2 linked regions of the Homo sapiens genome follow. The protein of the gene in region 2 purifies or fractionates together with the protein of the main gene of each other region. This does not show direct contact. Each region holds a gene or a part of one and is shown on either strand. Other genes may lie near its edges.

The links.
Region 1: the proteins of LONRF2 (region 2) and ZNF384 fractionate together in Homo sapiens (co-fractionation; one large-scale study listed by BioGRID). This does not show direct contact.

What each region holds. Positions count from the first base shown.
Region 1 is NC_000012.12:6,672,116-6,675,935, forward strand, and holds part of ZNF384 (zinc finger protein 384), read right to left. Parts: intron 1,326-3,820; coding exon 1,101-1,325; intron 418-1,100; coding exon 235-417; intron 1-234. UniProt on the Homo sapiens protein: Transcription factor that binds the consensus DNA sequence [GC]AAAAA. Seems to bind and regulate the promoters of MMP1, MMP3, MMP7 and COL1A1.
Region 2 is NC_000002.12:100,287,743-100,291,562, forward strand, and holds part of LONRF2 (LON peptidase N-terminal domain and RING finger protein 2), read right to left. Parts: intron 2,679-3,820; coding exon 2,516-2,678; intron 1-2,515.

The sequences.
Region 1 (3,820 bases), on a different chromosome or scaffold from region 2:
TGAATATCATATAGTCACTGCAGCTCCCCGACGTAGCTCTTGCCCCAGAGAAGCTCTGTGTCCACTTGAATCTCCAGTGTTGTTTGGTCTTCCTTCTCCCAGATGCCAGCCAGGTCTCTCCTCCAGCCAGGTCTCTCCCCCGCCCCCCGCATGCGGGTTGTTGTGTGTGTCCGGGGCGGGGGTGGGGAGGGCATGCCAGCGGGGCGGGGTCAGTAGCCCGCCACTCTCCCTTACCGTGTGTGCTGCTGGAGGTGGGAGAGCTGGCGGAAGGCCTTCTGGCAGTAGGAACAGTTGTAGGGCTTGGCCCCCGAGTGGATACGGAGGTGCTGGGCCAGGTAGGAGGTGTTGGCGAAGGTCTTGGAGCAGTGCGGGCACTTGTGGGGCTTGATGGTCTCCGTGTGCATCTTGGAGTGGATCCTGCCGGAGAGGAGAGGAGGGAAGGGGGGAGGAGGAAGCAGTTCGACACCAGGGGCTCAGCTCTCTGCTGGGTGAAATGACGTTGCTTGACGGATGAGAGCACCCCCTTCCTCCCTCCTCCCAAAAACACTCCAGCCTGGATAGGCAAATGAAGAGGACACCCAGATCTAGGTTGTTGCTGATCGTAAGTCGGTGGCTAGAATGGCAGTGAGATGATGAAGAGCTGCAACCCATGGCTCCTGGTAACCTTAAAGTAGTCAATCTCATCAACCCTCCGCTTTCTCCTAAGGTTAACACACTCACCACAGACACCCTGCTTCCAAATAGTAATCTGAACAAAGACCAATACCGCCTGTTCCCCATGGACCTGAAGTTGAATGCACACCTTGGCTCTGAACTGAAGCATATAGTAAAAGCAGGCCTGCTCTGCAGAAGATTTCCAAACACAGACACAGAGAGAAACCACAAAAATTGTTCCAGACTTTGGAATTGGAGACCACAATTTTCAAGGCCCCCCAAATAGCTAGGATATATAATTTCCACAGACAGTAATAGGAGGTTGAGGCTACCAATGGGCAAAGGTGAAAGGGAAAGAATAATACATGTGGAGAGAGGAGTAGGTGCAGGCAACATGGTCTTAGGGTTCACGGCCAGGTGGTGGGGTAAACCAAGAGCAGCCTTACCGGGTGTGCTGCTGAAGGTGGGAGAGCTGGCGGAAGGATTTCTCACAGAAGTTACAACTGTAGGGCTTAGCCCCTGAGTGTATACGGATGTGCTGGGCCAGGTAGGAGCTGTTGGCGAAGGTCTTGGAGCAATGTGGGCACTTGTGGGGCTTGGTCTCGGTGTGTGACTTGGAGTGGATCTGCATCTCCGACTTGGAGTAGAATGTCAGTGAGCACATCCGGCACCTGAGCCAAGTGAGGGCAATGGTTAGAACCCTTCCCATCAAGAAGGTGTGGCTGAACCCTCCCCTCTACTTCCAAGAGAAGCCCACCTATCTGAGGTCTCTCCTACTCCAACTTGAGAGTAGAGCTCTATATATTCATCTTTATGGCCTAAGCTTCTAACATGGTGCCCAGCACATTATAAATATTCAATAAATGTTTGCTGAATGACTGGACTGCCTCCATGTGCAAAAATGTATTTCAACCAGATAAAACAGAAACAGTATGAACTCTGGGCAGATGCGAATTTCAATGGGCCAGGAATATCAGTTAACTTGTTTGCCTTCTGCTTACAGCTTGATTTCAAACATTTAAGGAATTCCTTGCTCTGATGTTCCTATGTATGAAGCACATGCCTCTGTATTCCTCAAGACCCCGAGATGATAATGAGGAACAACTAACTGGATCCTCTCCTGTCTCCATAGATAATTTTCTTCCCTCAGATTTTCCCCTACTTCCTTTTTGGCAGCGATTCCTAGAGGGATGGGGGTGAGGAAGTATCAGAATTATTTGGAGGGGCTTTTTCAAACCAGGTATGTCTGCTCTCCACCCTCTTATCTGATGTTGCATCCATCATCTACCCACCCCTTGCCCACAGCCCCTTGACAATCAAGTGAAAACCACTTTTGCAATGACCAACGTAGCTGCTAGGGGAAGGTGCCATCCCTCAAGCATTTGGGAGAAAAATGATTACAAAACACCTATCTTCCACGCTAAACCTTTCCTCTTCCCTAGCACATGGAGCCAGTGTCAGCACTCTGGGTTGACATCAGTAGCACCTGATCGTACTTTCACTCATCCCAAGCTGGTAATCCTTTCCACTCTGGTATTGTCCACCAAATATCAATAAGGAGGCCTCTGAGCAAGTTAAGCCACAACTATTCAGACTTTACTGAGTAAAAGCTATCTTTCATTTTCGTAAACAATTCACCAGTGTAAAATGGGAGCTGGTAGAAAAGGCAATGGCCTGGAAGCCAGGCAATTAGCACAAGTCCCTCTTCTTTGGGTTCTCCCTAACTTATCTTCTTAAGAGAGGCTTCAGATGGTGTGGGATCATGATTTCTGCACTTTTTTCATCTCAGGAGAATTTTTTAGTTACCAGCTTATTGATCCCTGGCAGTTGTCTGAGATGCCCAATCATTGCAGGAGAGAGGGGGAGGCTCTGTTTATAGTGAGCATAATCCAAAGGACACAACCAGTGGGAATCAGGATGCCTGGGTTCTACTCAGGCTTCAGTTACAAACTTGCTCATTAACAGACCTCAATTTTCTGGTCTGTAAAATGGAAAGATAAATTTTTGCCCCCAGAAGGGCGAGCAAATGCCTAGGACAGTCAAAGGTAAGCCAAGTATTCTCCAGTAATAAAACTGCATTCATCTTAAGCCTTAGTGCTGATGGACAAGCTCATGCTAGTAAATATTTCACTAAGACTGAAGTTAGAAGCTGGACACATTGTCCCTTGAAGGGCAACTGTACTAAAGTTGCAAACTAATTTCCCTTGATGCTACAATTTCTCAGACAGGTAGAACATATTTATTTTAACCCAAATAAAATCTCGTCAATTTGTGTGTGAGGGTGTTCAATACACAATTCTGCCCTTAACATTAAGGTTAATTTTAAAAAATAATAATAACCCACTTAGTCAAAGTTTCCAATAAGAGAACTTGCAAAACTTAAATTCATTTATAATGTGCTGGCAAGGGAATGAGCAATCTCAGAAGACACTAGGTATAATAATGATGATGACCACAATGATAATAGTTGCCATTTGTTGTTATGCCTGACAGTGCCAGGCACTAGGTTAGGCACTTCAGACACATTGTTTCTACTCCTCACAACCTGGCAAGTCTTATCCATGTTTTTACAGAAAGGAACACAAAGACTCAGAAAGTAAGTAATTTGCCAAAGGGCAGTTATTCACTACAAAGCCATGATGCCAGCCTACTTTAAGATTCTTAACACCAGAGGTATTCAAGCAGAGGTTGGAATCATCTGCCAGGAAGGGACTGACCAAGGAGATCATTAAAATATTTCCAACTTGAAAATCCTATGAAGTCAAGTAAGAGAGTCCTCTAATGCAAGGTGCTGGGTGGTTGGAAAGAAATTTAGTTTTGGAGAGTCGTGGCAGTCAGCAGGGGATAGAAAAGCCAGCATCCATATCATGGGGTGCCTTCCTCCAGGGGCACCATTCACATCCAACACAATGAGAACGGGACCCCTTGGAAGCATGCAATGCAATGGCCTTGATTATAATAATTACAAGTATGGCCACTTTGAATTATTATCCATTTTTCCTAAAATGCTCAAAACAATTTCAAATATTCTGACTTTGCCTCAAAACATTTCTACAAGACAGATGAAGGCATGGCTGATCTTCCCATTTTATATATGGGAACAAAGAGTGGGAGATACGTTGACTTGACCAGAGTAACAGAACCCAACTGCCCCAATAGCCAGTCA
Region 2 (3,820 bases):
GAACACCTGGTAGAGGAGGAAGAGCATGGGACTGGGAATCACGGGGCCAGGGTTTGGTCTGGCTTCATCACCAACTCTCATGTGTGAATCTAGCCAGTCTCACAGCCTCGTTAGGGCAGAGTTTTCTCATCTGCATAATAGGAATAAACCATGAAGGTCCTTTCCTGTTACAAAATTCCAGTACCTACAAAAACTACGGTGTGCTGAGAAATTATAATATAATGCATATACCACCCTCAATTTGATTTATACAAATCAAATATTCATATGTGATAGAGGATTTTCTTATAAAAATAAGCTAAAATTATTTCATGTTGTAGCTATTTAAGCCCCCATTTAAAATAAGCGCATACACTATTAAAAGCTGTCATCTACAACAACGGTCAATAAACCCTGCCGTCAGGTCTATCCATCCCACAGAGAGACCCTGAGAATTATCACTTTCAGCTGTAGCTTTGAAACCCAGCTTTCTGGTCCAGCCTGGGAGCTGGGCTCCCTGCTCTGCTCCCATGCACTGGGATGACCAGAAACAGCAGCTGGAGGAGGCACAGAGACAGTGTCCTGGGTGTGACTCCATTCACAAATCCTAAGTGTACACCACTGCCCCCAAAATGACTTCCAGTGTGATGTGGGGTGGCTACGTACCCTCACTTCCACAATTCCAAATGTCAACCAAAGAATTTAAAAGAGGGATACAATAATTCCAAGGATTTCCTCCTTTTAAGTATTTTAAAATTTCTTGCTGCAGTATAATTTACAGACCAAAAAGTGCATAGATCTTGTTGAGCTCAAAGAGTTTTCTCAACTGTATACACCAGTCTGACCATCACCCAAAACCAGATAGACATTTCCACTACTTAGAAAGATTCTTCACCACTCCCTCCAGTCAATTACAAAGCCAACCCCACAAGCCTTTTCTGACTTCTGTCCCCAGACTCTAGTTTTGCCTGTTCCTGGAAGTATACAGATGAAGCCACGCGGTATGTGTTCGTCCTGTGTCTGGCTTCTCTCACTTAGCATAATGTCTGTGAGAGTCATCCATATTGTTTCATGCACGAGTGGTTCATTTCTTTTTATTGACAGGTAGTATTCCATTGCATGAATGGACCACAATGTGTTTACTGACTCAAGTGTGATCAGCACCTGGGCTGTTCCTGGTTTGGGGCTATAATGGAGTAAGACTGTTATGGACATCCTTGTGTAAGTCTGTTGGAGAATCTCTCAAAACATTTTGCTAATTTGTCAAATTATATGTCCTGATATTTCTATTAGACACATGAAAAAATTCTTAAGGGTTAATAAATTCAAGTCTTTTATATTTAGCTTTGGGAGGTATTTTTTAAGTTGTAGATTTTGTCACATTCTGAATTAATACCAACCTAGAGAACAGGGACTGACAGACTGCTGTTCATGAGTCAAACCGTGCTCACCACCATGTTTCCGGAAGTCACATTTAACGGAAACCAGTCATGCTCATGCCTTTACACATTGTCTATGGCTGCTTTTGCACTACAAGGGCAGAACTGGGTAGCTTCGACAGAGACCACATGGCCTCTGGAGTCTAAAGTACTTATTAGCCGGCCCTTTACAGAAAAAGTTTGCCAGCTCCAGGGCTACAGCATCAAATACAAATCAAAAGCCTATTTTGCAATGCGCAGGTTTACATGTTGCATAAGTACAATAAGGTCTTTTTTTTTTTTTTTTTTTTTTTGAGATGGAGTCTTGCTCTGTCGCCCAGGCTGGAGTGCAGTGGCACGATCTCAGCTCACTGCAACCTTCAGCTCCCAGGTTCAAGCAATTCTCCTGCCTCAGCCTCCCAAGTAGCTGGGACTACAGGTGCCCGCCACCACACATGGTTAATTTTTTTATATTTTTAATAGAGCCAGGGTTTCACCGTATTAGCCAGGATGGTCTCAATCTCCTGACCTCGTGACCTGCCCACCTTGGCCTCCCAAAGTGCTGGGATTACAGGCGTGAGCCACCATGCCTGGCCAGATCATTTTTTTAAAAGGAGATTTCTGTACCAGCTCCCAACTCAGGTAAAAATCCACTGAGAAAATAAATAACTGCTGAAGGCAGGGGCTCATGCCTGTAGTCACAGCACTTTGGGGCTACTACACTTTGGTTGAGGTGGGAGGACTGCTTGAGCCCAGGAGTTTGAGACCAGCCTGGGAAACACAGGGAGACTCTGTTTCAACGACAAACAAAATTTAAATTAGCCATGTGTGGTGGTGTGCACCTACAGTCCCAGCTACTCGGGAGGCTAAAGCAGGAGGATCGTTTGAGCCTGGGAGGTCAAGGCTGCAGTGGGCCAAGATCATGCTGCTGCACTCTAGCCTGCACGACAGAACAAGACCTTGACTCAAAAATAAACAAATAGATAAATAAATAACTTAAGTGATGAATTAAGGACTTAAGTAATATTGTCAGTACAAGTTTGACAAAGCTTTTCCACAATGCAAAGGGAAGCGAGAGGACCGACTGCTATAAAATACACCAGTATGATAAGCCTTACCTTTTCATCTTCAAGATATTCAATGTCCGCTGTGTTATAGCCATCTCTGTGGCGGTGGCTTAGCACTCGGAACCGACTGATGCCAATCGCGTCTACAACAGAACTTCCATCAGGAAACGTTCTCACGTCCTTAATCTCCAGCATGCATCCATACTCTGAAAGCCTGAAAAGACAGTTAGGAGAAATGACTGTGATTTTTAAAATGCAGGGGGCCTTCTTTTTCCCTGGATGAGAGTTTACTTTTAAAAGGAATACAAAGCCACACAAAACAGTGTCTCCACATCAGACCAGCAAGGTTATTGTCGCTAAGAGACACGTGCACATGGTCGCTTCTGTTAGATGTTAAATATAGTGGTGATGGTGGCTGCAGGGGAAGGGCTCCAGGTGAGACAGGACTTGTGCCTTAGCGGTTCCAACGGGCTAGTGTTTTGGGAAGGACCCGAGAGATGGGAAGAGATGAAATCTCAAATGTGGCTCCTCAGCCACCTTGGCGGGGCACCATCAGGACTGCCCAGCTGGTGCCACGCACACACTCGGCTTTCCAAAGCTCTCCCCAGCTCTTACCCACACTCCGATTGTAACTATCACCCTTATCCTAGTGATATTCTCATGCTACCACGTGCCAAGCAACACACGGAGCAGTTTATAATACATATGAATTCAAGCCCACACTTAAAATTTGATTCATCAAAAGTCAACAAAGTGAAAAAACAAGCTATGAGTTCCATGTGCACTGAGAATATAGAACACTAAAAAGAATGTGAAAAACGACAAGGAAAACCAGATAAACCACAAAACATATGTCTCTTGAACCCACCAGAGGGTGGAGATTGCTCAGGGTAACCAAACAAAGATCCCACAGGGAGAGAGTAGGCAGAACCCAGGAAGAGACACAAAAGTGTGTAGGAAGCATTCAGCTATTTTTTTTTTAAACAAATTGCCAATGACCTTGTGTGGGCTGGCACCAGAGTGCAGGTCTGGAGAGCTGCACTCACAAAGGGAGTTTGCATCACACACAGGATCCTGTCCACAGATAAGAGCCTCCTTGATGAGTCATGCCCTGCAGTGAGGCAGGCTTGGAGGAGCTGACGTTTATCTGGAGGCCTCTGCTGGTGCTGGTTGCTGGGGCAGCAAGTCCTCCACCTTCAAAGGCACTCCGCTCCTCCTCCCTCCTGCCTTCGCCCACAAGGTCTTCACCTCATTCCAATTCTGCCAGCTCTGCCCTCCCCAACCAAAGTGCCGTGGAAAGCAGTCCCCGGCCACTGCCTTCATCTCCTTGCCTCCCCCTCACTCCTCCATATCCTA